2 separate regions of the Homo sapiens genome follow, and region 1 is linked to region 2. The links come from fine-mapping of genetic effects on gene expression. A gene starts in region 2. The other region holds a variant in brackets. All regions are shown on one strand. Distances are between the middles of the regions. Region 1 overlaps LOC105374034 (a long non-coding RNA gene). Region 2 holds the start of RETNLB (resistin like beta).

The links. PIP is the estimated chance that this variant, and not a neighbour inherited with it, causes the effect.
Region 1: its variant is fine-mapped to the expression of RETNLB in transverse colon (GTEx, PIP above 0.99).

What each region holds. Positions count from the first base shown.
Region 1 is chr3:108,728,428-108,744,171 of GRCh38, forward strand. LOC105374034 (a long non-coding RNA gene) reads right to left here. Exons shown (of 6, transcript XR_924323.2): 4 at 14,977-15,064; 5 at 14,675-14,880; 6 at 14,062-14,099. Among named protein-coding and RNA genes, the nearest start is that of RETNLB, 21 kb to the right of the region's middle. RefSeq lists an enhancer at 15,675-15,744. The variant A/C (reference allele first, on the strand shown) is at 7,230.
Region 2 is chr3:108,747,860-108,763,603 of GRCh38, forward strand. RETNLB (resistin like beta) reads right to left here and starts at 9,551. Exons shown (of 3, transcript NM_032579.3): 1 at 9,200-9,551; 2 at 8,649-8,729; 3 at 7,779-8,046. The coding sequence starts at 9,326. The coding sequence ends at 7,919. LOC105374034 (a long non-coding RNA gene) reads right to left here and starts at 403. Exons shown (of 6, transcript XR_924323.2): 1 at 77-403.

The DNA of each region.
Region 1 (15,744 bases), 19 kb before region 2:
AGAGACATTTTTAGGTATGAGATATATCTCAAACTGACAAATTTTCATACCAGAGCCCATTTTTATTTGAAGGGCTAGACATGGCTGTGATTCATAACCAGGTGGTGATTTCAGCTGCCCTTGTACTTGGGAGCATTGCAGAAGTTGATGCTCATCAATTACCTCTCATCCAACCATTCTTCTGAGGCTATTGGGCTGGAATTCAGTCAAAAATTCACCTGTCATGGAACAAGTTCACAGTTGAGAAACAGACCTCAATACTGTTAGTCCCTTATTGACTGGGTTGGTACTATTTTTATGCTCCATGGAATTCATTGCTCCCATACATAAAAAGAACATTATATTAATGCTATCATACCCTTAAAGATGAGCATTCAGCCAATCAGATAATAGGTAGTTTCTTACATTTTGCCCCAGTTTTTCAAGTCTCATAGCAACCTATCCAGTCCAATTCCTGATAAGTTGGGATATTTAAGACATTAAATCAATACCCAGTAAACATAGACATTTACAAGCTCAAGAACATAGTTTAAATATATCTGAGCCCAGGTGACTTTTCAAGCTCACTCATCTGAAGGGGCTTTCCTTTGCTGTGTCTGAAAGATGTTATCTTCCCAGCTCTACTCAGACATCCAGCACTCATTTCAATCACCCCTCGTCTGAGATGGAAGGGCTTATGAATATGATTAACAGTGGTGCATGTCATAAAGAAGTCCTTTAGTAGATGGTCCACTAGATATTGCTGTGCCCTGAAAAGTTCTGTCAGTTTTTAGGATTGGGTAACTGATCATGCTCATTCTAATTAGGGACAATCCACTTTACACTCTAGCAGTCTGTATCTCTTTCAGTCAGAATTACATGGTACTTGTTGTGATCCAAACCACAAATTCATTTAGAAGGCACTTGTAACCATCATGGTGACATCTTTGGTGTTTATCAGCCTGCTGTTGGTGGCTGGTGAAGAGCGGCAGGGCAGGCTGAGACTGGATGACTGTTGGGGTGCTTGTGGGTATAGGATTTTCTGATTCCATGATAATAGCTCACCTGCTTCTGATGGCTCCAGTGTAATCCACTTACTGAGTATTTTCTATGTGTCAATCATGGTGTCAGGCATTTAGTGTAAAAACCCCATCTAATCATTATAAAAATTCTATCAAGAAGGTAATATTATCCCCATTTTACAGAAAAGTCAACTGAAATTTCTAAAGGTTAAGTAAATCAACCAACTTTATGAAAGATCATGAATAGAGATGAGATTTGAAGGTCCATCTGTCTAATTGCAAAGACAATGCTCTCCACACAGCATGTATGTCTTACCTCTGAAATAAATACACAATACTAAGATTGTGTAATTAGCTCCCAGATCTCAGTTGTACTTCATTTAAGTTTCAGAGCATGATGTAGTTTATAAGAAAATATTGAACCCTCTACTATGTAAAACTTTCTGTCCTAAGCACTCTGGAGGATCTGGCACTGAGATTATTCAGAGAGAGCTTCAGAGGGGGATGGGATGTCTGCTCCTGGCCTTCAAGAACAGGTGGCTTTCTATAGGCAGGGATAAGGGATTGGGGATGGATAGTGGTGCCAGGAGGGCATTTTGGGTAGAGGAAATGGGTTGAACAAATACATAGGGAAAAAAGAACTGCATAGTGGATTAGAGCTCCAGGGAAAAGGCACATTTCAATGGAATGGAGATTCTCTAGAGAAAGGTTAGGAAATACGGTTGGAAGGGTCAATTGAAATTGATTGTGGAGGGCACCAGTGCAAAGCTGAAGGTGGTAAGCTTAGTCTGGCAGGCAGACTAAGGGGCGGGGGGCATGAAAGTTTTTGAGTAGGAGAACAATTTGTCAAGACAAGATTTCAGGAAAGAGAACCTTAACACCAATGGGCACAGTGGGTTGCAACACCCAAGGCAGGGTCAGAAAGAGCAGTCAAGAGCCTAAAATGGAGCTCCACACTGGAGAGCATCCTGGCCAAGGGAAAACGTGACATTAGAAACACAAAAAGCAAGGCTAGGGTCTCTCAGCTCAGGCTCTTCCCAGCTGTGTCACCTCAGGCAAATTTCTCAATGGCCCTCAGCTGCTTCTGCAACATGTAAGTAACATCTACACCACAGCATTGTTTATTGGTTCATTCAAAGCATTCATCGAGTGTCCGCTATGTGCCAGGTATAAGGAAGACAAGAGGGGTCAAGGGTGTCTCCAAAATATTTGACCTGTGCAACAAGAAGAGGGGATTTGCCTTTCCTGTGACACTTAAATGATAAACTGTGTGCAAAACTCCTGGCATAGTGCTGGGCATACAGTGGCTGCTCATTAAGTGTAATTCTTTTTGAAGCACTAAGGACCAAATTTTGTTTGTAGCAATGTGATAGAAATGAAGACATTAATAAGAGCTTTTGTAAACAGAGGGAGCAGGCAGGTCTAAAATATATGATTGTCTAGAATATATAAGTTCTATAAAGTTTCTAAAGTAACCTATATAATACCAGGTAATAAATGGTTTAAAAGAACCCTTTCTACCCCCCTGAAATACAAAGGAAGGAGCCTGTTGCATGTCGGGGGACTTGTTAATGGCATCTATGTGTGTCAGGACCTTAGCAGGAGAGAGATGGGACACACTAGCCGGCTGAGTGGCTGGAAAACCTAATAAAGGGTCAGCGGGGAGGAGTAGATCCTGGAACCAGGAGACAGACTCATGGCAGGAGAAATGTAGACTTGGCAGGAGCTCTGGCCTTGGTAGAAGAACACAGTGACCAGCAGAGACTGGAAGGAGCCTGGGTTGAAATACTCCTCTCCACTGAAAACTAAACCCTAAAGCATTACCCATCGCTCAGTGTTTCCCATAGAAGTTAATGGGGAGAAATCAGGAAGAAAAACCATTGATTAATATAAAACACAGCTTCTAATGTCTCTGCTTCTGCAGCTCATCATGAGGCCTTGGTTGACAGTTGTAGCGTCTTTTCCACCACACATTTTGTGTTCCCTACCCTCTCTGCCAGACTTCAGCTGAAGAGAGTTCTTTACCTGCTGGGGAAAATTGTTTTGCTTCTTCATTTCTGTAGGATCTGACTTTTTAGTGTCTCTTTCTTTAGTTGCCAAGGTTTTCAGGACTACTGGGCAAAAGTACTAAGAAGTGCACCAATGACTCCCTGGTGGTCCTCTTTGGCCTTATTTTGCAGCAGCAACCAAATTTTTCTTTATAATTGGAGTCAATACAATACACTAGGTAATACAGAAACCCTCTTATTTGCTTATTGGCTCAGTGGCATGAGAATCAATAGTTCTTGGAAGCGGTCTTATCTTCCAGTTGATCAAGCAGCAGTCTTAGCTTCCAATTCACAGAAACCATGTCTTCTATTCCTTATCAAAAGCATTTTTCTTTTGGATACTAGGACTCTTTGGAGCTCAGGGTTGTAGGTGAGACAAAAACATCCTCCAATGTGTTGATGTAATAGTAGAGGTAGGAAACGCTCCTACCTCTACTCTGTAGTTCCCAGACATGTGCATTCTGGCTATGGGGCTGGCTTAAGGCATTTACCTCATTCTGCAGGAATGCCTCCCAATTTTGAAGGATGGCAACAGAATTGAGACTTCAGCAGAATATATCATTAATTCATCAAACCAGGTACTTCTGTGTTATGGGATACATGGTACAGTTAGTGAATTCTATGGGCATGAGCCCATCACCTTAATTCCCACACATAAAATGTGATCTCTAGACAGAAGTGATGTATAGGATACTATGGTGATGATAAGGCATTATCATTTGTGGACTTAAGTAAAGCGTTGCATCCTCCATCATGAAAGGTGTCCGATATAAACAACCTGCTACTAGGTGGTCAGCTGGTACCTTATGGGGACTGGTGTTGTACTGGAGGCCTAGCACTAACTTCTGACATTGGGAAGTTGAATACTCAGCAACGGTGTTAAACAGACCAGCGTTGGTAAGGGGAATTCCATGCTGTTAGGGTGCTCTTCATTTCTGCTTCCATCACCACTTTGTGCATGCTCCCACTGAGCAAGCACTGGAGTTGGTGGGGAGAGAGGAAACTGGGGGGTTTACAGGATGTCTCTCCTTATTCTGATTATTAAAATCTCCCTCCCTTTCCTGTAGTCTCCCTCGTCACCATTTTTCTGTCATTGGCCAATTCATTAGGCTGTGGGGTGTTTACAAATGTGTGTATGGTCATAATTCCGGCTGCTTTTTCTTCCAAATGTGGTGGGCAGCCCAATGTTCCAGCCAAACTTCTGCTCTCTGGGAGGATTTTCCTTCACTGCTGTCAGTCAGGGCCAGCCCTGAGTGAGACTATAGTACAGTAGCTTTCCTGCAGTGCCAGCATAACACACAGATTTTTTTCCTTCTTCATTAACTGGTTATAGGGAACTCCTTTTGTGTGAGAAGTGAAAGAGAATGCATAGGCTGAGGAGATGAAGAACTTTGAAGAGTGAGCTCATCAAATACAATTCAGACATGAACAGAGATCACAAAGAGTGTCACCAACCTGCACAGGTATGGGTATGCTTTACTTAATTCTAGTCTTACACGGACATAATTCTCTTTAGAGGAATCTTAGTCATTTTTCAGTATATTGGGCTTAAGAATGATACATTGTTACACAAATGACACGTTTTACTTTATTTTTGATAGTCTTGCCAATTAAAAAAAAACTTAGCTACTTCTAATAAAAACAATAACTTTTAGATAAATAATCAGTCACTTTTGAAGTTCTAATTTCCAATCATGGCTCTTCTATCTCAAGGAGTTCTCTGCTCCCTTTTGTCTTCTAAAAATGGTTTGCGTACAGGGAGAATTTCCTGGTGTCAGAGGGAGGGGATCCCTGATCCAGAATCTTATTTATGAACTTCTCATATTCTGTGTCCTCCTGGTCTAGACTCCAGGAACTTTTTGTTTGCTTGTCCTTCTAGCGTTTCCATTTGCCATCACTGATATTTTTGGATTTTCTATACTCTATTTGCAGACCCTCCCCAACCATCTCAGGATTATCTATTATTATCTATTACCTCTCCCTAACTATTCTACAATTCCCAGGCAATTTTGGGAGCAGAACACTAGTCTGGACGTTATTCAATTCACTCTGAGCTTATTTAGGATTTTTATCAAAATGTCTATCATCCTTCCCTGGCTCTGAAGAGCCACGGCTCAGAATAGGGCAGGAGTATGCGTGTATGTGAAGACCCCTTGAAGATGACTTGAGGTCCCTTCTTGAAGTTTCTCTATGTAGTTCTATGCCCTCTGAATCTCTCCAAGCATATTCTAGCAGAAAAGGGCTTTTATAAATAAAAAATAATAATAATAAGGTAAAGGACTTCTTTAAATAAGGTAAAGGACTTCCCCAAGAGTGTAACCTTCATCTTATCTGCCTGATGGTTTAAAGTAAATCTCTATACTCTTTGTCCTTATTATGTAAAGCCAAGGCTTTAGAATGTAGAACATCCCTTATCTTTTCCAGGAAATTCTTGCTGTCAAGAATATTGCCTCACTGTGGATTCAAAGATGCCAGTTTTGAAACCCAAAGCTGAGAGTTGACTACTTTTTCCCCAGGCTCCCTGTTCCCCACACTTGGATTGACAGATTATCAGGCACAAACATTGTCTGTATGATTTGTTAAACAATGTATTTGATCATTTTCCACTGTAGTGTTGCATTTTCTCATGCCTCTCAGTTTTTATTACTTACTTTAAACCTTTGCTCTGTCTTCTTCAGGTGAGCATAAACTTAGCTTCTTTAAGTCCCTCTGCCAGAGGCGTTCGAACCAGAGCAACTCCAACTTGAATAGGGACTGGGTAAAATGAGGCTGAGACCTATTATGCTGTGTTCCCAGGATGTTAAGCATTATTAGTCACAGGATGAGATAGGAGGTTGGCACAAGGTACAGGGTACAAAGACCTTGCTGATAAAAGGATGTAGTAAAGAAGCCAGCCCAAACCCACTAAAACCAAGATGGTGGTGAGAGTGACCTCCATTGGTCCTCATTGCTCATTTTATGCTAATTATAAGGCATTAGCATGCTAAAAGACACTCCCACTTGTGCCATGACAGTTTACAAATACCATGGCAACATCAGAAAGTTACCCTATATGGTCTGAAAGGAGGAGGAACCCTCAGTTCCGGGAATTGCCCACCCCTTTCCTGGAAAACTCATGAATAATCCACTCCTTGTTTAGCATAGAATCAAGAAACAACCATAAAATAGCCAACCAGCAGCCCTCTGGGCCACTCTGCTTATGGAGTAGCCACTCTTTTGGTTCTTTGCTTCTCTATTAAACTTGCTTTTATTTACTCTATAGACTCATCCCGAATTCATTCTTGTGTGAGATCTAAAAACCCAATCTTGGGGCCTGAATCAGGACCCATATTATTCTGTTTTCATGCTGCTATAAAGAACTGCCTGAGACTGGGTAATTTATAAAGGAGAAAGTTTTAATTGACTCACAGTTCAGCATGGCTGGTGAGGCCTCAGGGAACTTACAATGATGGCAGAAGGCACCTTCTTCACAAGGTAGCAGGAAAGAGAAGTGCTGAGTGAAGGGGGAAGAGCCCCTTAAAATACCATCACATCTCGCGAGAACTCACTATCATGAGAACAGCATAGGGGAAACGACCCCCATGATTCAATTACCTCCACCTGGTCTCTCCCTCAATACATGGGGATTATGAGGATTACAATTCAAGATGAGATTTGGGTGAGGACCCAAAGCCTAACCATATCAGGACCCCTTTCTGGTAACACCTCCCCTCACTGTGATTCCTATTTCTGGTCTGTCCCAGTGCTGCCTAGGGACTTTGACTTCTTTAAATAAACATTTTCCATGCTTTCCGTATCCCCACTTAAATCTTGCTTATCAGAGCATTTCCCACAGATAATTCCTCAGCCTGTATTTGGAAGAAATGTAGCCCTTTCATTTAGGTCCTTTCATGTAAGCACACTCTGTCTCAAGCAGCCTTCAGAGCACTAAGTGCACCCCATCTACTCATGTCTTCTCCTGAAGCACATCCTCACTTTCACACACTTTCTATCATCTTCTCCTCAGAGTTCCCTCTCTCAGGAAGCTCTTGGTAGTAGACATATTCTTACTCTTTCTCCCTTCTTCCCTTCAGGGCTTAGCTCCATGAGAACCACAAAGTAAATGGTGTCATAAATATAATTTACCTTTGTGATTTTTTTCCACTTTAGTTTCCACAGCCCTTCCCATTATGCATACAAC[A/C]CTGTTTGATAAGGCTCCAAAGTAGTTATTTTTATTTATTAGAGCACTCAGAGATTTCTAAACCTATCCAAATTAAACTGATGGTAGAATTTGAGCCAGAAAACACAAGGAATATTTGAAGAAAGGATTTTCTCAGCATCAAATGCTACCTTGGTCCTGCAACTGATCTTTGTTGTTCAGAGAAGGGCTGTCCCTGCAGAGGTGTCCAGGTGTCTTTCCTGTGGCTTCTTTAATTGAGGACCTTAAAGAAGAGCCTAGTCCTAAGAAATGACTCCTCTTCAGTTTCTTTCCCAGACCCTAAGGGATTGTGCCCTGGTCGTAGGAATTTACACATACTCCTACCCCTGTGGATCTATAGGGTTGCTTGCTGCTGGTTTTGCCTAAGAGGAAAGAGAAAGTTTCCCCGGGTTGGGCCATTTGGTGCCTATCAATGTGGGAAGAGAGCTTTCTGGGCTGGCTGCTTGTTGTGGCAGGATCCCTCCTGCTAGTGTTGCTTTTCCTCCTGATGTCTCTTGATGGGTTGCGGGGGGGTCTCAGGGGAAAAGGTGTTATTCTCCTGGTTGTCAATTGTCATTGGGGCTTCCAAATGCCCCACTGCTAGTACTGCTGAGCTTACCTAGTATTTCAGTGAGACAACTATTTATTCCAGGAAAACCGAGAGCCTACCTATGTCACCTTCCATTGCTAGGCTGAAGTCAGAAAATGCTAGACCCGGATGACCTTCATCTGTTGGGTGGGGGTTTGTGATAACCACTACCAACATGTTATTCTTCCAGCCCTGGGGTCTAGAATCAGTTTGCCTTGCCTTCCACTGTTCAGAATTTGCCTTTGGTTGCCTCCTGCATTATTGCCAGGGTTGATCATTTACTTAGCAGGATGTAGCAGGGTGAAACATGTTACGTCATATTATCCAGACCAGTAATGCCATCTTTATTTTATTCCCTTCCTAGAGTATTCTATCGTCCTTTTACATTCTCTTATGTAATCTTTCTCCTTTATCTTCATTCCATGATTTTTTAGCAAAGATTAGTCCATTATGTGTGGATTCATATTGCAGTTCTTTAACTTATGTTTGTAATCATTAAAGTATATCGTAAAGTGATGGGATTTAAAGAAAAAGTAGGTTAGATGTCACCTAATTTATCAAGTTTTTTTGTTTGTTTTTTTGTTTTTTTCTTTGGAGAATGTAAGGAAAATGAATATGCTGCAGTTGATAGTAGGCTGAGGCAGGCATCTGGACCAGCGTAACTCGGTGAGTTTGGAGCACAGACACATAACTCCGTTGTTACATAACCTGTTTGTGTAAGCTCATACTTGCTTCTGAGTCACTATTGTCTGTAACAGGTATAACTGCCTTGTTGATGCTGTACATACAGCTTGCTCCCACAGAGAGAAAGGGTTAAGCTGCTGACTCTGTAAGGGAGAGTCACCTCCTTGCAGGCCAGGGAGTGCAGCTGTAAGCGTGCAGGTGGCAGCAGCCAGAGCAGGCAGCCGAGACAAAGGCTGACGGAGACAGAAAACATAATAAAGCCATATATTTCACCTGCTTATGGACCCTGAGTGTTCTTTCAGCTATCTGCCACCCACCCACCCACTCCCCTCGGACCTCAGCATGTGCTGAAACCTGAAATATGGTGTAACAGAGAAAATTCTCATAATTTTTGTCATATAAAAAAGAAGCAAATGTTTGTTCCCAAAACTGAGTATATTTTGCCCCCAAAATGTACTATGAATCTGATAACATTGCATTCGTCATTATGTCCAAGGCAGAGAATGTTTTGATTCATTTAGTGACATGGAGTACGTAAGCAATAGCAACCAGTCCTCACTATCCTATCTGAGTCTTTCAAGAAAATGAGCCAATGATGGCTAAATTTCCTGTCACAGGTAGCTAAACAGGCATGAATGGGGCAGGAGAGGGCTCTCCCCCACCCACTAGGATTGTTGGGTGATGGCTTGGCAATTATCATCACATTTCCTCTCTAAAAGTGATAAATTGGCAAAGGGCACTGGGGAGAGACAATCTCCTAATGGTCCACACCTGTTAACAGTAAAGTGTGAATTGAATGCAGGTGCCAGGGAGAAGCAAAAAGGGGATTCCAATAAAATCTCAGGTATTGGGCAAGTAAGCAAGGGCAAGAGCATTAAGAGGCAAGATGGTGAAGTATCACTGGAAAAGGGAAGGAAACCTCCAAGGGGCATGTGTACAACTTCCTTGTGTGTACTCACTTCTCAAGCATAAGGAGGGCACTGTGCATGCGGGCAGCCCACCCTAAGGGATGAATTATGGGAAAGAGGTGCAAGTCACAGGAAGTGGGCCAGCCTATAAAGTCCTGGGATCAAGGTTAAACATCGCACTTGACCTTCACGTGCCTGCTTGGGTCTCTTCCAGGTATACCTTCCTTTCTTTTCTATTCTAAAACCTTTTAAATAAACTTCCTGCTGTGAAGCTTGCCTTGGTCTCTTTTTCTGCCTTATGCCCCTCCGTCAAATTCTTTCTTCTGAGGAGGCAAGAATTGATGTTGCTGCAGAATTCATTGCCAGTAACTCAGATACCTTCCACCGATAACATCCCTATTTCTAATATAACAGCCTTAGAAGTAAGGAATCTGCGAGGAGCCGACATTGGACTGAAGTCCAGGAACATACATGGTGGAAGAGGGGAGGAAGGAAAGCTCTATAAAAGATCTGAGAACAGATCAAAGACAAACATCACCATACAATTTCCCACCCCAATAACCGCCCTCCTGCGGATGATATCCTCAGAGTGAAATCTGTAGTTCTTCTCAGTGTAAGAGAGACAGGTACTTGAGCAGTGGAAACTTCATCTAAGAGGTGGCAACTCTGATGCCTGAATCACACTACTGGAAGAAGAATGGCACAAACAATATGAATAATATGTTTGGCTTTTCCATGGCAGAATTGAGATATGGGACATTGTTTTTTTGTAAGATTACGAGATCAGACTTTGAATTATTTTTAGTTAAAAAAAGATTTATGAATTCAGTTCAAAGTTTCTCTTTCAGAAAATCTGGATTTGTAAACACTATTTTGAATCTGGAGATTCAAAGAAGTCAATGTTCAGAATCAAATCTAAGAAACGACTCCATGATTCAATGGGTGAGGAAACTGGGAAAACTAGGAAGCAGCTGTTAGTGGGAGCAAAAATGTATTGGTTATACTTCAAAAAATCTGCTACATCAGTAAGTCTTTTTAATGTCTTCATAAATTATATGTGGGTACTTTATACAATTTAAGCAGCTATTATTATGATTATTAAGACTGATGGTTTCTTTCTTTTCTTTTTTTTTTTTTGGGATGGAGTCTCACTCTGTCATCCATGTTGGAGTGCAGTGGTGCAATCTTGGCTCACTGAAACCTCTGCCTCCTGGGTTCAAGCAATTCTCTGCCTCAGCCTCCCAAGTAGCTGGGATTACAGGCGCCCGCCACCATGCCTCAGCCTCCCAAGTAGCTGGGACTACAGGCGCCTGCCACCACGCCTGGCTAATTTTTGTATTTTTAGTAGAGATGGGGTTTCACCATCTTGGCCAGGCTGGTCTTGAATTCCTGACTTCGTGATCCACCCACCTTGGCCTCCCAAAGTGTTGGAATTACAGGTGTGAGCCACCATGCCCGGCCCTATTTTTCTTTTAAGTGTAATAATTCTAGTTAGAGGAGACCACACCCAATATAGTTTACCAATGTGTATTTTTCTCTGGGAGTGTACAATTTTACACAATTTTACAGTCAGTGGGTTATTAACCACTGAATTGACTCACCATCTGTGCTTATCCTACTTATGCCTCTGGTGTTCGTTGCTTATATGAGATAAACAGGCCATTAAGTGTTGCATCAAGTTCCTCCCCTATGAAACCTCCTGCTTGTCCATCTTAATCCTGCCAACCAATCATAGGCTAATAAGAGTTCACAAACTTCTTCTTTTAGGATTTGTCATAATTAGTGAAGCCCCTAAGCCATATGTATAATAACTTTTCTTGATGAAACTCTCAGTCTGTGGAGGGAGGCAACCTAATTTTTGCACCTAAGCACACTCAATCTCAGGTGGTGCTCAGCCTCCTCTTCCCTCTCCCTCAGCCCTTCACTCTTGGCCTCCCACAAGCACATACTCACATCCCTACCATTTCTAACACTTTCTCCTCAGCTGTGGTGCCCTCTCCCAGATAGATTTGACCATTAGAGAATGACTCTCCCTCTCTACCCTTTTCTTCTTCCTTTAAGGCTGAGCTTCAGGGCTGACCCAAGCGAATACTGTAAACTTTGCCTTGGTAGATTTTCTACCTTAATTTCTATCGTTCCTTCCATTATACAAACAACACTGTCTGGTAAGCCTCAAAGTGAGACCCTTTCTATGCATGTGTGTATTTAACTAGAAGAATCAGAGATTTCTGGTCACCTTCACTTTACAAGTGAATCTAATGGTAGCATTTGAGGCAGAAAAGACAGGGACATTTTTTAAAACGAGAACTTTCTTAGATTCCCTCAAATTATATCGTGGGTCATGCAAATAGTCTTCGAGGCTTAGGCAAGTAGCTCCTGTGGCCTTATAGAACTGTCTTCCTGATGCCTTTTCAGTCTACTTAGGGCCTTACAGGAGTTTCTATTCATAATCAAGGGCCTTCTTTTCTACCTCCAGGCCATATACCCAGGGCTTAGGTCCAAGCCTTAGCACTAACATATTCCTTCCCAGATCAATCATGTGCTTCAGCATTTCCTCTTTATGGGATTTGCCAGAGGGAAAAATAAAAATCCCTCTCACCTAAGAGGGGATTTATTTAGCTAAAACTAACACTTAATATCTCAAAAGTAGGATATGTGACAGCTAAAAATAAGGGCTGAATGATGGCTTACTACATTATCAATGTCTTACCAAATGGTACCCATTATGTTTCTGCTGCACAAATGTGCAGAAGCTGGCTTCTAACATTCAGAGAGCACACAAGTGAATAAAAGCAGTTGGCATACAGCCCTATAAAACACAATTCACTGGTGGCTCAAATCTCTTCCTGTTGGGGCCAGTTTTATGGTTTCTGCAGAATTGGAAATCTGCCCCTCAAAATAGCTTTCGGATACTTATTCACTGGCCAATTTAAGCATGTGTAAGAAATATGCTTCTGATTGTTAGTATGTAATGCAGAAGTGTTAACATCAGCTATTGGGAAAATGTTGGGATTCCCTATTACCATTGTGCCTTGATTTAGGTTACAAGCAACCTTTGTGAGAATTAGGGAGTGTAGACACTTATATGTTAGCTTCAGAATGGAGGTCTCTAGAAGGATAGTATTCCTTTTGAGTGAGATGTCTGATGATAGAAGCACACATTCTAGGGAAGGATTTCTTAACCCTTGGCCCTATTGACAGTTCATGCAAGGCAATTCTTTGTTGGCAGTGGGGGTTTTACCTGTGCATTGCATGAAGTTTCTTGACATTTGTGGTCTATTCCCAACTAGATGCCAATATCACTTTGCCTCTGCCAGGTGTGACAACCAAAAATGTTTCCAGATATTTCCAAGTTTTCTGGTTGAGAACCACTATTCTAGTGTAAAGAGAGGACAGCCTATGCTATTTTAGGTATCTAAAGGGCAGCATCCAAAGCTTATGTGGGGTGTACTCAACATTTGAATACAAAGTAAGGAGAACTAAATGCACACACACATACACATACACATACACACATTTTGGCCTTACTTTAATTTTTTTTCTCTTTCCTTTCTGGAATGCACAACCTCCCCAACCTTTATCCATGAATAACAAATTAGCAAAGATTGCTAAACAGTGTATAGATTTCTTAAAAATTTCCTTTGTTCTAGGCCAGGCACGGTGGCTCCCGCCTGTAATCCCAGCACTTTGGGAGGCTGAGGCGGGCGGATCACAAGGTCAGGAGATCGAGACCATTCTGGCTAACACGGTGAAACCCCGTCTCTACTTAAAAATACAAAAAATTAGCCGGGCGTGTTGGCGGACGCCTGTAGTCCCAGCTGCTCGGGAGGCTGAGGCAGGAGAATGGCGTGAACCCGGAAGGCGGAGCTTGCAGTGAGCCAAGATGGCGCCACTGCACTCCAGCCTGGGCGACAGAGCGAGACTCCGTCTCAAAAAAAAAAAAAAAAAAAGTAAAAACCTTTTGGGTTTTTGGGAGGATTGCTTGGGGTCAGGAGTTTGAGACCAGCCTGGGCAACCTAGTGATACTTCTTCTCTATAAAAATAAAAAATAGCCAAGTGTATTAGTGAGCGTCCTCTAGAGGGACAAAATTAACAGGATAGATGTATATATAAAGGGGAGTCTATAAAGGAGTATTGACTCACATGATTACAAGGCAAAGTCCCACAGCAGACCATCTGCAAGCTGAGGAGCAAGGAAGCTAGTCCGAGTCCCAAAACCTGAAAAGTAGGGAAGCCGTCAGTGCAGCCTTCAGTCTGTGGTTGAAGGTCCAAGAGTCCCAAAGCTGAAGAACTTGAGGTCCGATGTTCGAGGGCAGGAAGTGTCCGGCATGGGAGAAAGATGGAGGCCAGAAGACTCAGCCAGTCTAGTTTTTCCACGTTCTTCTGCCTGCTTTTATTCTGGCTGTGCAGGCAGCTGATTAGATGGTGCCCACCCAGATTGAGGGTGGTTCTGCTTTTCCCAGCCCACTGTCTCAAATGTTAATCTCCTTCGGCAACACCCTCACAGACACACCCAGGAACAATACTTTGCATCCTTCAGTCCAACCAAGTTGGCACTCAATATTAACCATCACACAAGTGTGGGAGCACGCATCTGTAGTCCCAGCTACTTGGGAAGCTGAGGCAGGAGGATTGCTTGAGCTCAGGAGTTTGAGGCTGCATTGATCTATAATCATTCCACTGCATTCCAGCCTGGGAAACAGAGCAAGATTCTGTCTGTTAATTAAAAAAATAAATAAATAAGATAAAAACCTTCAGAGAAATGAAGTTTTGAGAAGCAAGAGCTTTGCTGCAATGGGTAATGGTTGTACTGAGGCTGGAGGTGGTGAGGAGAGGAGGCAACAGCACTATAAAATCTAATTTCTGATCCCACCAGAGTTGTTGCATTGGTGTTACCACCTTCTTGTTAGGATGAGAATCTGAAAATCAATCATACTTTTATAGTTCTTCCAAGGAGAGAAATTATGACACCCTACTTCATGGAACCACAAGCTGAACCACTATGTGCTAACTGATATAAGCATTCCCATTTGGAGGAGAAGCATACCTAAATTTGTGAGAGTGTTTCATACTGGACCCATGGGGAAGAGAATATCAGCATTGGATATTGGTTCTGTTTTAACCTTTCTCTTTTTGCCAATACATCCAGTAAGTAGGAATCTTTATTGTTAAGTTTCTGGTGTAGAATTGAAGTAGAATGTCTATGAATCATGGGTGATAGGCTATGCGATTCTATAACAGTGGATGATTTATGCCCTCTTTCTTACCAGAGATGTTGAGAACCAGTCAGCCTGGGATAAATGATTGCAGATTACAAAGGGTGGGGGATGAGTTGTCATTGCATGTTTAGTGTCTGAAGCAGGTGATGGTTCATTTGTGCTGCATGCCAGAGTCAGCAGAGTGAAGATTTCTCCCAGTGGTTTGGGATCCTGGGTCATGATTCCCTAGAGGGGCCATGCATTCAGGGATTGGCCTTGGAGACATCAGAAAGCAATAGGAAGAGTCACCACCTGCCTTTGATACCTGCCACCTTCTCTTTAATTTGCCCTCTTCAAGGACAAAGACTCACCTGTGCTTTCTTGAGTATTTTACAACATGATTCCTAGGTGAATACAGCTCAGGTCTTATGACATCATTAGAGGATCCGGTTCCAGATTCTTAGGAAAAAAAAAACCACTTAAATCCCATGTAAGGGGGAATGAACAGTTAGGTATAGTGAGACAGCTTGACTCTAAGAGTGAGTCTTAAGCACTCAGCTCTGCTAGAAGAATCTGTGGTCAGGTGGTACTTACATTTCACTCAGAGGCCTACAACTTAAGCCTCAAAAATTCCTCATATTATGCCAAATGTATCCTTGCACTTGTGACATAGAGACTCTACATACTGGGAAGGATCTGAGGCAATTGTGTAGGAATTCCCACATGGAGGGAGCATCATAGCAGTCTAAAGGGGAATTACATGCCAGGCTTCTTCAGTGAAGGATGTGGTGAGAAAACTGACCACCTGTAAAAAGTGCATAAATGAACCATGCCTTTTTTCCCTGATGCCTTGACACCTTGAGGCCTTGCTGACCCTGACCCTGGAAGGACGGCCCTCGCCTAGGTTGGCTAATTCCTAGAGGTAGCAAACAACTCACCTTCCCTTCTTTTTATATGCAAAACAACCAATCCAGGGTCATAACTTCACCCACCTCCTTTACTGGGGTCTCACTCTCTAGGCCACTCTCTACCTGTGCTACTCACCGTAGGGCCAGGTGTCAGACAACTAAGGGCAGCCCCTAGGTCTCAGAGCCTGCTGAAATTATTGAAGCTAGCCAATCCTAATCCTTCTTACCCTG
Region 2 (15,744 bases):
AAGCATCATGAAAAAAAAAACAGGGCAAGAGTTAGAGGTGATGCGAAAGGTTTTCTGAAAAAAATTGAGCACTGACCTTTTGTGTGAGAACTGTGTAACTATCTGGGAGACAGGACGTAGGAAGGCCTCAAGGTGGGAGGGTGGCTATGACAGAGAATACCTAGAATGCAGATATGGCCAGGGTGAACAAGGGTTACAAATGAAGTTAGAGATATAGCCAGTGACCAGGGAATGCAGGATTTAGTTGGCCTTGAGATTTTATTTTTTCATGTTGTGGAAGTCACTAGACTTGAACAGGAAGGTGACATTATCTGCTTTCTATTCTAAAAGACTCACTGCAGCAGCTATAAATAAGAGTATACCTATTATTATAATAATTAACAGTGCATATTTGAACAGAGCAGTTATAACAAATTTTTATAAGTAATTAATAAACCCAAACAATATTTCATAACTATATTTTTTTAAATGAGAAAGAGCTTCTCCTCCCACCCAAGTAGTTTATATACTCATGGACATTTCGCTAGAGTGACATACAGTCTAGAACCATTATATTCCTAGCATTTTTTTTTTTGAGACAGAGTCTTGCTCTGTTGCCCAGGCTGGAGGCTGGAGTGCAGTGGCACGATCACAGCTCACTGCAACCTCCGCCTCCCAGGTTCAAACAATTTTCCTGCATCAGGCTCCCAAGTAGCTGGGATTACAGGCATGAGCCACCACGCCCAGCTAATTTTTTTGTATTTTTAGTAGAGACAGGGTTTCACCATGTTGGCCAGACTGGTCTCGAACTCCTGACCTCAAGTGATCCACCCCCTCGGCCTCCCAAAGTGCTGGGATCACAGGCATAAGCCGCCGCACCCAGCCATTCTTACTATTTCTTTTCATAATTGCCAGCTTTGACATGTCTACTTTTTATAATTAAGTAGATAGAAAGAAAAAGTGTTTATTGTAGTAATGCCGTTCAATTTGTCTGAATTCCTTTTGAATGACTTGTCAACAATCTCACACACCAACTTATTATTAAAAATTATTTTTGGTGATTCATCAATTGACAATTGCATTATATCCTCCTTCAATCCTATAAAGACCAAACCATGGAAGCCTCCCGAGCCGTGAAAGGACTTGTTACCCCATCACTGGATCATTCATACACTCATTGTGGATGCCCATATTTTTAATCACTTCTTGTTTGGCATTCTGCAGATTTTTATACCCCAGGATAATAAGATTCAGTGACAGGTGAGGGCTGTGGTTTTCTTTTGTTATGTGGGAGAAAGGCAATGGTGAAAGAAGTCACCTTGATCAAAGCACGTCTCAGGCACTTGAATTTAGTAAAGAGTACATATGCACACTGAAAATCTAGAAATAGATTCCCTTAAAGCTACCCCTGCTTGCCCATCCCTTGAAAAATCTCACACATAGCTCGGAGCCTGTTATTCTAGTTGGTGAGCTCTGTAAGGGTGTGTTATTTTATTTCTCTTTACCCCTTGCCAAGCAGTATGTCTGGCACAGCCATCTTTTTGTTTAAAAATGAGGATCTCGAGCCAAGATGGCCGAATAGGAACAGCTCCGGTCTACAGCTCCCAGCGTGAGCGACGCAGAAGACGGGTGATTTCTGCATTTCCATCTGAGGTACCGGGTTCATCTCACTAGGGAGTGCCAGACAGTGGGCGCAGGCCAGTGTGTGTGCGCACCGTGCGCGAGCCGAAGCAGGGCGAGGCATTGCCTCACCTGGGAAGCGCAAGGGATCAGGGAGTTCCCTTTCCGAGTCAAAGAAAGGGGTGACGGACGCACCTGGAAAATCGGGTCACTCCCACCCGAATATTGCGCTTTTCAGACCGGCTTAAGAAACGGCGCACCACGAGACTATATCCCACACCTGGCTCAGAGGGTCCTACGCCCACGGAATCTCGCTGATTGCTAGCACAGCAGTCTGAGATCAAACTGCAAGGCGGCAACGAGGCTGGGGGAGGGGCGCCCGCCATTGCCCAGGCTTGCTTAGGTAAACAAAGCAGCCGGGAAGCTCGAACTGGGTGGAGCCCACCACAGCTCAAGGAGGCCTGCCTGCCTTTGTAGGCTCCACCTCTGGGGGCAGGGCACAGACAAACAAAAAGACAGCAGTAACCTCTGCAGACTTAACTGTCCCTGTCTGACAGCTTTGAAGAAAGCAGTGGTTCTCCCAGCACGCAGCTGGAGATCTGAGAACGGGCAGACTGCCTCCTCAAGTGGGTTCCTGACCCCTGACCCGCGAGCAGCCTAACTGGGAGGCACCCCCCAGCAGGGGCACACTGACACCTCACACAGCAGGGTATTCCAACAGACCTGCAGCTGAGGGTCCTGTCTGTTAGAAGGAAAACTAACAACCAGAAAGGACATCTACACCGAAAACCCATCTGTACATCACCATCATCAAAGACCAAAAGTAGATAAAACCACAAAGATGGGGAAAAAACAGAACAGAAAAACTGGAAACTCTAAAACGCAGAGCGCCTCTCCTCCTCCAAAGGAACGCAGTTCCTCACCAGCAACAGAACAAAGCTGGATGGAGAATGATTCTGACGAGCTGAGAGAAGAAGGCTTCAGACGATCAAATTACTCTGAGCTACGGGAGGACATTCAAACCAAAGGCAAAGAAGTTGAAAACTTTGAAAAAAATTTAGAAGAATGTATAACTAGAATAACCAATACAGAGAAGTGCTTAAAGGAGCTGATGGAGCTGAAAACCAAGGCTCGAGAACTACGTGAAGAATGCAGAAGCCTCAGGAGCCGATGCGATCAACTGGAAGAAAGGGTATCAGCAATAGAAGATGAAATGAATGAAATGAAGCGAGAAGGGAAGTTTAGAGAAAAAAGAATAAAAAGAAATGAGCAAAGCCTCCAAGAAATATGGGACTATGTGAAAAGACCAAATCTACGTCTGATTGGTGTACCTGAAAGTGATGTGGAGAATGGAACCAAGTTGGAAAACACTCTGCAGGATATTATCCAGGAGAACTTCCCCAATCTAGCAAGGCAGGCCAACGTTCAGATTCAGGAAATACAGAGAACGCCACAAAGATACTCCTCGAGAAGAGCAACTCCAAGACACATAATTGTCAGATTCACCAAAGTTGAAATGAAGGAAAAAATGTTAAGGGCAGCCAGAGAGGAAGGTTGGGTTACCCTCAAAGGAAAGCCCATCAGACTAACAGCGGATCTCTCAGCAGAAACCCTACAAGCCAGAAGAGAGTGGGGGCCAATATTCAACATTCTTAAAGAAAAGAATTTTCAACCCAGAATTTCATATCCAGCCAAACTAAGCTTCATAAGTGAAGGAGAAATAAAATACTTTATAGACAAGCAAATGCTGAGAGATTTTGTCACCACCAGGCCTGCCCTAAAAGAGCTCCTGAAGGAAGCGCTAAACATGGAAAGGAACAACCGGTACCAGCCGCTGCAAAATCATGCCAAAATGTAAAGACCATCGAGACTAGGAAGAAACTGCATCAACTAATGAGCAAAATCACCAGGTAACATCATAATGACAGGATCAAATTCACACATAACAATATTAACTTTAAATATAAATGGACTAAATTCTGCAATTAAAAGACACAGACTGGCAAGTTGGATAAAGAGTCAAGACCCATCAGTGTGCTGTATTCAGGAAACCCATCTCACGTGCAGAGACACACATAGGCTCAAAATAAAAGGATGGAGGAAGATCTACCAAGCCAATGGAAAACAAAAAAAGGCAGGGGTTGCAATCCTAGTCTCTGATAAAACAGACTTTAAACCAACAAAGATCAAAAGAGACAAAGAAGGCCATTACATAATGGTAAAGGGATCAATTCAACAAGAGGAGCTAACTATCCTAAATATTTATGCACCCAATACAGGAGCACCCAGATTCATAAAGCAAGTCCTGAGTGACCTACAAAGAGACTTAGACTCCCACACATTAATAATGGGAGACTTTAACACCCCACTGTCAACATTAGACAGATCAACGAGACAGAAAGTCAACAAGGATACCCAGGAATTGAACTCAGCTCTGCACCAAGCAGACCTAATAGACATCTACAGAACTCTCCACCCCAAATCAACAGAATATACATTTTTTTCAGCACCACACCACACCTATTCCAAAATTGACCACATAGTTGGAAGTAAAGCTCTCCTCAGCAAATGTAAAAGAACAGACATTATAACAAACTATCTCTCAGACCACAGTGCAATCAAACTAGAACTCAGGATTAAGAATCTCACTCAAAGCCGCTCAACTACATGGAAACTGAACAACCTGCTCCTGAATGACTACTGGGTACATAACGAAATGAAGGCAGAAATAAAGATGTTCTTTGAAACCAACGAGAACAAAGACACCACATACCAGAATCTCTGGGACGCATTCAAAGCAGTGTGTAGAGGGAAATTTATAGCACTAAATGCCTACAAGAGAAAGCAGGAAAGATCCAAAATTGACACCCTAACATCACAATTAAAAGAACTAGAAAAGCAAGAGCAAACACATTCAAAAGCTAGCAGAAGGCAAGAAATAACTAAAATCAGAGCAGAACTGAAGGAAATAGAGACACAAAAAACCCTTCAAAAAATCAATGAATCCAGGAGCTGGTTTTTTGAAAGGATCAACAAAATTGATAGACCGCTAGCAAGCCTAATAAAGAAAAAAAGAGAGAAGAATCAAATAGACACAATAAAAAATGATAAAGGGGATATCACCACCGATCCCACAGAAATACAAACTACCATCAGAGAATACTACAAACACCTCTACGCAAATAAACTAGAAAATCTAGAAGAAATGGATACATTCCTCGACACATACACTCTCCCAAGACTAAACCAGGAAGAAGTTGAATCTCTGAATAGACCAATAACAGGCTCTGAAATTGTGGCAATAATCAATAGTTTACCAACCAAAAAGAGTCCAGGACCAGATGGATTCACAGCCGAATTCTACCAGAGGTACAAGGAGGAACTGGTACCATTCCTTCTGAAACTATTCCAATCAATAGAAAAAGAGGGAATCCTCCCTAACTCATTTTATGAGGCCAGCATCATTCTGATACCAAAGCCGGGCAGAGACACAACCAAAAAAGAGAATTTTAGACCAATATCCTTGATGAACATTGATGCAAAAATCCTCAATAAAATACTGGCAAGCCGAATCCAGCAGCACATCAAAAAGCTTATCCACCATGATCAAGTGGGCTTCATCCCTGGGATGCAAGGCTGGTTCAATATACGCAAATCAATAAATGTAATCCAGCATATAAACAGAGCCAAAGACAAAAACCACATGATTATCTCAATAGATGCAGAAAAAGCCTTTGACAAAATTCAACAACCCTTCATGCTAAAAACTCTCAATAAATTAGGTATTGATGGGACGTATTTCAAAATAATAAGAGCTATCTATGACAAACCCACAGCCAATATCATACTGAATGGGCAAAAACTGGAAGCATTCCCTTTGAAAACTGGCACAAGACAGGGATGCCCTCTCTCACCACTCCTATTCAACATAGTGTTGGAAGTTCTGGCCAGGGCAATTAGGCAGGAGAAGGAAATAAAGGGTATTCAATTAGGAAAAGAGGAAGTCAAATTGTCCCTGTTTGCAGACGACATGATTGTGTATCTAGAAAACCCCATCGTCTCAGCCCAAAATCTCCTTAAGCTGATAAGCAACTTCAGCAAAGTCTCAGGATACAAAATCAATGTACAAAAATCACAAGCATTCTTATACACCAACAACAGACAAACAGAGAGCCAAATCATGAGTGAACTCCCATTCACAATTGCTTCAAAGAGAATAAAATACCTAGGAATCCAACTTACAAGGGATGTGAAGGACCTCTTCAAGGAGAACTACAAACCACTGCTCAAGGAAATAAAAGAGGACACAAACAAATGGAAGAACATTCCATGCTCATGGGTAGGAAGAATCAATATCGTGAAAATGGCCATACTGCCCAAGGTAATTTACAGATTCAATGCCATCCCCATCAAGCTACCAATGACTTTCTTCACAGAATTGGAAAAAACTACTTTAAAGTTCATATGGAACCAAAAAAGAGCCCGCATCGCCAAGTAAATCCTAAGCCAAAAGAACAAAGCTGGAGGCATCACACTACCTGACTTCAAACTATACTACAAGGCTACAGTAACCAAAACAGCATGGTACTGGTACCAAAACAGAGATATAGATCAATGGAACAGAACAGAGCCCTCAGAAATAATGCCGCATATCTACAACTTTCTGATCTTTGACAAACCTGAGAAAAACAAGCAATGGGGAAAGGATTCCCTATTTAATAAATGGTGCTGGGAAAACTGGCTAGCCATATGTAGAAAGCTGAAACTGGATCCCTTCCTTACACCTTATACAAAAATCATTTCAAGATGGATTAAAGATTTAAACGTTAGACCTAAAACCATAAAAACCCTAGAAGAAAACCTAGGCATTACCATTCAGGACATAGGCGTGGGCAAGGACTTCATGTCCAAAACACCAAAAGCAATGGCAACAAAAGCCAAAATTGACAAATGGGATCTAATTAAACTAAAGAGCTTCTGCACAGCAAAAGAAACTACCATCAGAGTGAACAGGCAACCTACAACATGGGAGAAAATTTTCACAACCTACTCATCTGACAAAGGGCTAATATCCAGAATCTACAATGAACTCAAACAAATTTACAAGAAAAAAACAAACAACCCCATCAAAAAGTGGGCAAAGGACATGAACAGACACTTCTCAAAAGAAGACATTTATGCAGCCAAAAAACACATGAAGAAATGCTCATCATCACTGGCCATCAGAGAAATGCAACTCAAAACCACAGTGAGATATCATCTCACACCAGTTAGAATGGCAATCATTAAAAAGTCAGGAAACAACAGGTGCTGGAGAGGATGTGGAGAAATAGGAACACTTTTACACTGTTGGTGGGACTGTAAACTAGTTCAACCATTGTGGAAGTCAGTGTGGCGATTCCTCAGGGATCTAGAACTAGAAATACCATTTGACCCAGCCATCCCATTACTGGGTATATACCCAAAGGACTATAAATCATGCTGCTATAAAGACACATGCACACGTATGTTTATTGCGGCACTATTCACAATAGCAAAGACTTGGAACCAACCCAAATGTCCAACAATGATAGACTGGATTAAGAAAATGTGGCACATATACACCATGGAATACTATGCAGCCATAAAAAATGATGAGTTCATGTCCTTTGTAGGGACATGGATGAAATTGGAAACCATCATTCTCAGTAAACTATCGCAAGAACAAAAAACCAAACACCGCATATTCTCACTCATAGGTGGGAATTGAACAATGAGATCACGTGGACACAGGAAGGGGAATATCACACTCTGGGGACTGTGGTGGGGTCGGGGGATGGGGGAGGGATAGCATTGGGAGATATACCTAATGCTAGATGACACGTTAGTGGGTGCAGCGCACCAGCATGGCACATGTATACATATGTAACTAACCTGCACAATGTGCACATGTACCCTAAAACTTAGAGTATAATAAAAAAAAAAAAAATGAAAAAAAAGAAAAAAATAAATAAATAAATAAATAAAAATGAGGGAAGTGGGGGTTTGGAGTGTCAGTTTGTTTTTCCCATTCTTCCCATATCTTTCCTAACTTCCCATCCCACTTCCCAAACTGAGATGTCACCACTGGGACACTGACAACATTTTCTGGATAGGGGAGCCCCAAGCTGGGGACAATAACAGAGATGACATAAGCACAGAGAGGTACAAAGTTTGTCTTTATTACCCAAGAATCAGGAATGGAACAAATGAAGTGGGACGTTTGAGTTAGATTTCTTGGTTGGGACCCTGGTTTCATTACTGTCATGGTCACAAAACTGAGTTCTCAGCCTCCTCCCTGTCAGGTCAGGTGGCAGCAGCGGGCAGTGGTCCAGTCCACCACACTGCACTGGCAGTGGCAGGTGGTTTCCAGCTGAACATCCCACGAACCACAGCCATAGCCACAAGCACAGCCAGTGACAGCCATCCCTGCATGAGCACATGAAGCACAGACATCAGAGCTCTTGGAATTTAAGAGGAGGAAGGGCTACCCACAACCATCTTTCAACCCTGTGCAGTCAGGGGTAGAGCTAGGTTTCGTGGGGCCTCAAGCTCATTCAATTTTGCGAGCTCATTTCAAGAAAAGAAATACAGAAATCACAGAAACAAATATTTGCTGCCATGAAAGAGACTCATGCAAGTGAGAGACTTGGAACTTGGGAGTTTCAGTTTTCTTCGATTTGTGATAAATTCACCTCTCTGTTGGCCCCTACCCATCAAAACAGAGGAATAGATTGGAAAGAGAAATGAAGTATGTGATCATTATGGGACAATGGAGGAGAGGAAGGGCTGAGAAACAGGGGCATGAAGTGAAGGGGTGAAAGGAAGAGGCAGAAGCCCAAGATCCCCCAGTAGCATCCTTCAGGGAAACAAGAATGGGCAAGGGGTCTCTGGGAACCAAGAGTCATGACTCAGCCCCAGGGTGCCAGGGTGATACAGACCTGACATGGGGGAAGACGTAGGTGCAGGGAGATGGACAGGGGAGGATACAGGGCATCGTAGTCGCCATTCCCTCTCAGGGAGTTACTCACCAGCAGGGCAGGAGGACGGTCTGCCTTGGCTTTTGACACTAGCACACGAGAGCTTCTTGCTTATAGGAGAGGGACTGTACTCTGAGTAGGAAAGAAGAAAGGGTACATCCCATGAGCTATCCTCCCCATAATCCCCTTATCCCCTTCCAAATTGTCTTCTACCTTGGAGGTGACACTGTGTCCAGAATCAGCCTACTCATCAGCTTTTAAGGTTAGTTTCCTCATTTTTAAAGCAGAAGTAATAGTTGTCCTTACCTCATAAAATGGTTGTGGGAATTAAATGAAATAATCTACGTAAAACTTGGATTATACCTGGTTCATAATGAGTGTTCATAAATTACAGCTACCATTCTCCTCCACCTCTTCCTCCTCATCAGGAAAACCTCAGCTTTTAGCCAAGACTTCAAACACGGGTAGGGTAGTGTAGAAAGCCCTCATCAGGGGTTGGGCTTGGTTGGGATCTTGGGATGGGATAGAGACAAAGCTAGAGTTTAAGAACAGGAGAAATGAGCAAGGGTCAACCCCCCGCTTCCCCTACCCCAGTCAGTTACCTAGACTGTTGAGAACATCCTTGATCTTCTTATCCATAACGGAGTCTAAGGAACACTGAGTACTCCCCGGGTTGATCAGCTGGAGAAGGGGGATTAGGATGAGAAGGAGGCAAGAGGACGGCCCCATCCTGTACAGAGTCAGTGTCCTGGGGCTGGGAGAAAAGATGGAAAGCAGCTTAGATCTCTGAGCTCCTGGGTGGTGGTGAAGGAAAGAAGACAACGTGGTTAGTTTCCAGGGAGTAAAGATGGAAGAACAGCGTCATCAGTACTGGATCTCTTTAGGCAGTTTGGAGAAGCAGGTAGGGTTGCTGAAGAACAGATTTATTCACCAAAACATTCAGAGAAGGTCTACAAGGACTAGCCAGGCAAGGGCGTTTTAATACACCTGGTATTAACCTGGGCACCTTTAACATACAAGCACACACAAACATGTAAACACACTCCCAGCACACTTTCAAAGACCTGTGCCAGCTAGGGTAACAGGTGACTGTGATAAACTTTGGAGTGTTCATGAGAAGCAACAGCTGCCTTTGCTCTGGATCTCTGCCAAGGGAGTCCTCCTGCCTTTTTGTTCTCCTTCTCCTTTCTTCTTGGCAACCCGATAAGGCTAGCACCTGGGCCTTCTGTGGTCTGCCGGTATTATAGGCTTCTTGTTTGATCCTTCATCAGGAAGAGGTTACTTTGCAGTTAACAAACAAATTAATCCACCCATCATCTATCCCAAACCCAAGTGTATGCTCTTTCTTATCTCTGTTGGCTGAGGGAGGGCCCTACTTGTCACCTGTTCAGACACCATTTTATTGTCCCTGGCCAATCTCATTTGGAGGAAAGTCACAGAAAGACTAATTAATCCTGGATTAAAAATAAGGAAGTTCAGTATTTACTTAACTAGAAGCATGGTTTATGATTCCAGAGTTCTTTTGGGGGCTCATAAAGTTTCCCTTTTTCCCCCACCATTCTCAGCTAATCTTTCGATCTTGTCTCCTCATGGTCACAAGGTAGAAGGTGCCACATCCTCAGCCCAGACCCTGAGCAGGAAGGAAGGAGTGGGGCAAGGCCACTTTCTGTAGGGGCTTTACCTTTTTATTTTAAGAGCAAGATCTTTCTCTAGAAGCTCAAGAAGATTTCCCCTTACATTCCACTGTTTGGTTCTGGGTCACACAACCTCCCTTTCTATCAGCTATGGCTGAAAAAGAGAGCTGGGCTTCACAATTCCTTATCCAAGACCTGGGGCCCAGGTATGTTTCAGAACTCAGAATGTTTCAGATTATGGAAGGTGCAAATTCTGTATATTATGTTAAACCACCAAGGAGGTTGGGGGCAGCACTCTGCAGTCTAATGCATAAATAGCCTGATGCAAAATGTATGAATATTAATGTGGGATAAATAAAAGACCATAAAGAGCCTCACACCAGGCCATGCCAAGTTTTTCTGCCAAATGAGTTAGCCTCAAATTTAGGACAGAACATTTTCATCTTTAGAGCCTTTTAGATTTTAGAATAATGGATAAGGGATTGAGGACTTTGAGGATTCACATATGGCCAAGAGGAATGAGGATGCCATGATTCCTCATCTAGGATGGGGCATGTGGCCACCATGAATAAATAAAATTTAAAGAAGTGCAGATGAAGAAGCAGAGAAAGGGGCCATGTGTTGTGGCTCATGCCCATAATTCCAATACTTTGATAGGCTGAGGCAGGAGGGTCTCTTGAGCACAAGAGTTCAAGACCAGCCTGGGCAACATAGTGAGACTCTATCAAAAAAAAAAAATTTACTGGGAGTGGTACCATGCATTTGTGGTCCCGGCTACTTAGGAGACTGAGGCAGGAGGATCACTTGAGCCTCAAGGTTGCAGTGAGCTGAGATTGTTTCACTGCACTCCAGCCTGGATGACAAAGCAAGACCTTGCCTCAAAAATAAATAAAATAAAATAAAATAAAATGAGAAGCAGAAAAAGGCAGTTAGGTGACTATTCCTTGAGGCAGTCAGAGCTGGAAAGGCTGGGCTCTACCTCTGTGACCAGCCTTTCTGCCCACTTTCCTGGAGATGCCCTCTAATGAACAGCTATTACTTATACATATCTCTCTCAGGCAACTTTGAGAAATGAGGCCTGGAGATGCCAGCAAAAAGGCAAGGATGCTTCCTCAATTACCAGACAGGAGTTGAAGAGAAGAAAAATGAGACTGGAGAATAAGAAAGAGCATACACTTGGATTTGGGATACATGATGGGTTGATTAATTGTTTGCTAATTCAATGAAAATTTGTAGAGCTTCTCTTTACCAGCTCTAGCTCTGCTGACTCAGTGGTGGACAACGTAGACAAGCTCTTTGCCCTTTTGTAATGGGGGAGATAAATACAGTGTATATACATATACTGTATTTATATATATGTATGTATGTGTATATATATATATGTATGTATATATATACATATATATATGTATGTATGTGTATACATACATATGTATGTATGTGTATACATACATATGTATGTATGTGTATACATACATATGTATGTATGTGTATACATACATATGTATGTATGTGTATACATACATATGTATGTATGTGTATACATACATATGTATGTATGTGTATACATACATATGTATGTATGTGTATACATACATATGTATGTATGTGTATACATACATATGTATGTATATATGGTCAAGTATTGAGAAATGCTGTAAAGAAAAATAAGTCAAGACAAGGCAATAGAGTGTGCCACTGTGCTATTGCCCATAATGCAGTATGTTCAGGAAAGGTGTCTCAGAAAAGGTAACAATGACCTGAAGAAGTGAGGGGGTGAGTCACAGGAAAATCTGGGACAAATGTTCTAGCCTGTGGAACAAGTATAAAGAGCCCACGGCAGAGAGTTGGTTAGTGTGTTGAAAGAATGACAACAATGGCAATATGGCCAGAATGAAGTATAGGGGGAAGGCCAGAGAAGAAGTCAGAGAGCTGACCAGGGCCAGATTATATAGAGCTTGTAAGCCAATGTAAGGGCTTTGGATTTTATTATAAATTTGACAGCAAATTATTGTAGTGTTTTGTTCAGGGGAGTGACATAAAATGATTTATGGTTTTCTAATGTTTAATTTTTCTTTTTTTTTTGGAGATAGGGTCTAGTTCTGTTGCCCAAGCTGGAGTGCAGTGGTGTGATCATGGCACTGCAGCCTCAAACTCCTGGGCTCAAGTGATCCTTGTGCCTAAGCCTTCCAAGTAGCTGGGACTATAATAGTGTGCCATCACACCCGGCTATTTAAAAAAAAATTTTTTTTTGTAGAGACAAGGCCTTATTATGTTGCCTAAGCTAGTCTTGAATGCCTGAGCTCAAGTGATCCCCCCATCTCGCTTCCCAAAGGTGAAATTACAGGTGTGACCCACTGTGCCTGGCCCTGATTAATGTTTTATAAAGCTTACTATGGCCACTGTGGAAGAGACACCGCGGAGGGAAAACAGGTAAGATGTAAGCAGGGAAAGCAGGCAGCAGGCTTCTACAGAGTTCTAGGTCTTGGAGAATAATCAAGGAAGGAGTGAGAACCGAGCCTCCATAGGGTTTGCTGATGTATGCAAGGTGTAGAAGAAATAGAGAAGTACAGATCTAGAGTTTTGTTTTGAATAACTTATTGAAGAGTGCTGCTACTTACTGAAATGGGGTTCCCTGGGAGAACAGTAGATATGGTGGGAACATAAAATCATATTTGATCATAGTCAATTTAATGTACCTATTAGAAATGTAGGGGGAGCTGTGGCATACAGAGTTAGGTATACAAATCTGGGGTTCAGGGAAACAGTAAGAGTTGGAGATATAAATTTGTGAGTAATCAGTACACAGGTGAATCTATGTGCAGAGATACTCTCATAGGAAAAAAGAAATCTATTTGTTTTTAGTGAAGCACATAAAGAAAGCAGAAGACTGGGCAGTGGATGAGCAGAAACATATAAGTTTAGAAACATGAATTAAGCTGCATTGACTAATCAATATGTTGGGAATAGCAAGGAAAGAGAAGAGGATAGGCACGCTCAAGAGTGCTCCTGGGTTACAATAAGCTTGGACAGCAGGGATAGTGGCCACCTCCGGGGAACACTTGTAGTCAGTGGCATGTTTAGCATACTTGACACCCAGAGGGGATCACTTTTTAATACTTCTGTCCTTTATATAAAAAAATCATTTTCAGTAATAATTATGTAATGATTACTAATAGAGCTAATTATTATTTTTGATTCATTCTCTGGTATTAAAACAAAAAAATTAACTATCAGAAAGGATAAATTTTAATTTTAAATATATCATTTAAATTCAGTACAATATTTTACATATGAACTAAAATTTGCACTTACCAAACAAAAATATACCTCACAGTTTGCACTGTTTCAATATAAATTTTAAACACAATTAAACTTCACATAATCATATAGAATGATCAAATGGCTCTGTAATTCAAGTTGGTTTAATTTGTCTTTACAATCACTGGGCTACATTATTTCTTTAGAATCTACTGTTTAAAGGCAGGAATATGTAATAGCACAGGGATTGGAGACAAACCTTTAGAAACAAACTTGGGTATTGAATTGTTATGCTCTTACTTTAGAAATGAAGGTGTGTAGCTGAGGCCAAGTATGTTGGGGCCAACTGTATAACTGGAAGTTCTCTGAATTAATTTTCATGTAGAACACAATGTTTATTAAAATATAAATAATAAAAATGTACTAAGTTGAAGTTTACATATATATTGTTAAAACTCAACAGTAATCACAGCAATTGTTTAGAACTTCAATTCACAATGTTTTGGGGGAGGAATATTTTACCATTGATATTACTTAGAATTGCCATGCATGGTGATAATGAAAAGCAGATTAACTTTTATAGGCTTTATTATTGCTTTTGAATTCTCTATGGATAATGCACCCTGCTTCTAGCCAGCGTCGCCACCCTTGGTAGTCGCTGCTGATGGTATAAGGACATTGCCTGGGATTAGTCATTCTCTCATAGAGCTTCTGCCTCAGCATTCTTGGAAAATGTTCAGAAAAACCCTATACAGGGAGAAGAAAGAAAGGTTTTTTTACTTCCAAAATTTGTAGATAAACCCAGTGGAGACTGTTAAACATTCTCCTTTCCCTTAGAGCTACCTTCTTCCTAAGACTGCACTCCTCTCCCAACGACCTAACTGTGGAGGTAACTGTAATTGTCCATAATGCAGGATGTTCAGGGAAGGTGTCTCAGAAAAGATAACAATGACCTTTTAAATCTTATTTCCTTTCCCCCATTCGATTCTCCACTGATTATTTTGTATTTCATTTAATTTTATACACATAAAGTTTGAGAAGTTGTTAGCATAGGGCTCCAGCTGAAAAAGAAAAAAAAAAAAAGAGGGACCATAAACCCGGGTATGGGCAACTGGGAAAGGTAAAGGCAGAGAAGCTGGAGATGAAGCTAACAGGCTCATCTGTTTCAGGCTAAGCTAAGGCACAGATGTGACCATGTCCTATGACTAAGTCCTGTGACTTCTCATACATGGGAGCAGAGGGCTTCAGCATAGAATGTGGAATTCTGAAGGTGCATAAGACAATCCATTGGCTTAGAAGTTAATATCAAAGCTTCTGTTTTTATTTAGTTTTTCATTAAACATTTTCTATTTTTGTATGTTTTATCATGAACATAATGTGTTATTATATATCTCTAGTTCATTAATTACATTTGAATATAGGTTGAATTTTTTTAACTCATGATGTATCTGGAAAAAAAGGAGACCAAAAAATAAGTTTCCAGAATGTTTTTGGCTAGAATTGAGGAACTCTCTGATGTGGCATTGAAGGGCTGATCATTTTTTATATTCTACAGAAATGAATCTTGTTGATTCCTATACTTTAGATACTACACAATAAATTAGTCAAATTGATATAAGACATAAAAATTGAGAATCCAGATTTGTTTTCTCATTCAGAGAGGAAGCTGACCTACCCCTGAATGGAGATTAGCCATAGGTTCTCTTGGTGACAGAATAAAATGTCCCCAAGAAATGATGTTGGAATCTGGGCAAGGGTTGTATAAAACCTGATTAAGACCCAGAGTTCTGCATCATCAAGCAGAGAAAAAAAAAATGGGTTTGTAAAACTCGACGAGCTGATGCTTTCAATTAGCTGTGAAACCATAAAGGATCCTTACCCATCAAGATTTCAATCAGGTACAAGTCTGTTAAAGAAGAAGATTGCATTCCAGTCGCAAAAGGAGTGCCCTAGGGTGGCTGAGTGGATTGATGCGTCCAGTATTATTGCTTCTTAGAATGCTGGAAAATGTCTATAAAGGCAACAGTTTTGTTCCTGGCAGTATTCATTGTAAAGTTACTTATGGTAATACTTGGCTAACTGGTTCAGCTGTTAGATGTGCACAAAAGCAGAGGTGAGAGATAGAGATACTCGGTGGAGAATGATTACAAGAAGGAACACTGGGGAAGGGATAATGAGAGAGGAGAGTTGGGAGAAGGAGAGAATGGAGAAAGGAGGTAAAAAGAAAGAGAAAAGTGTGGTGGAGGCTAGAG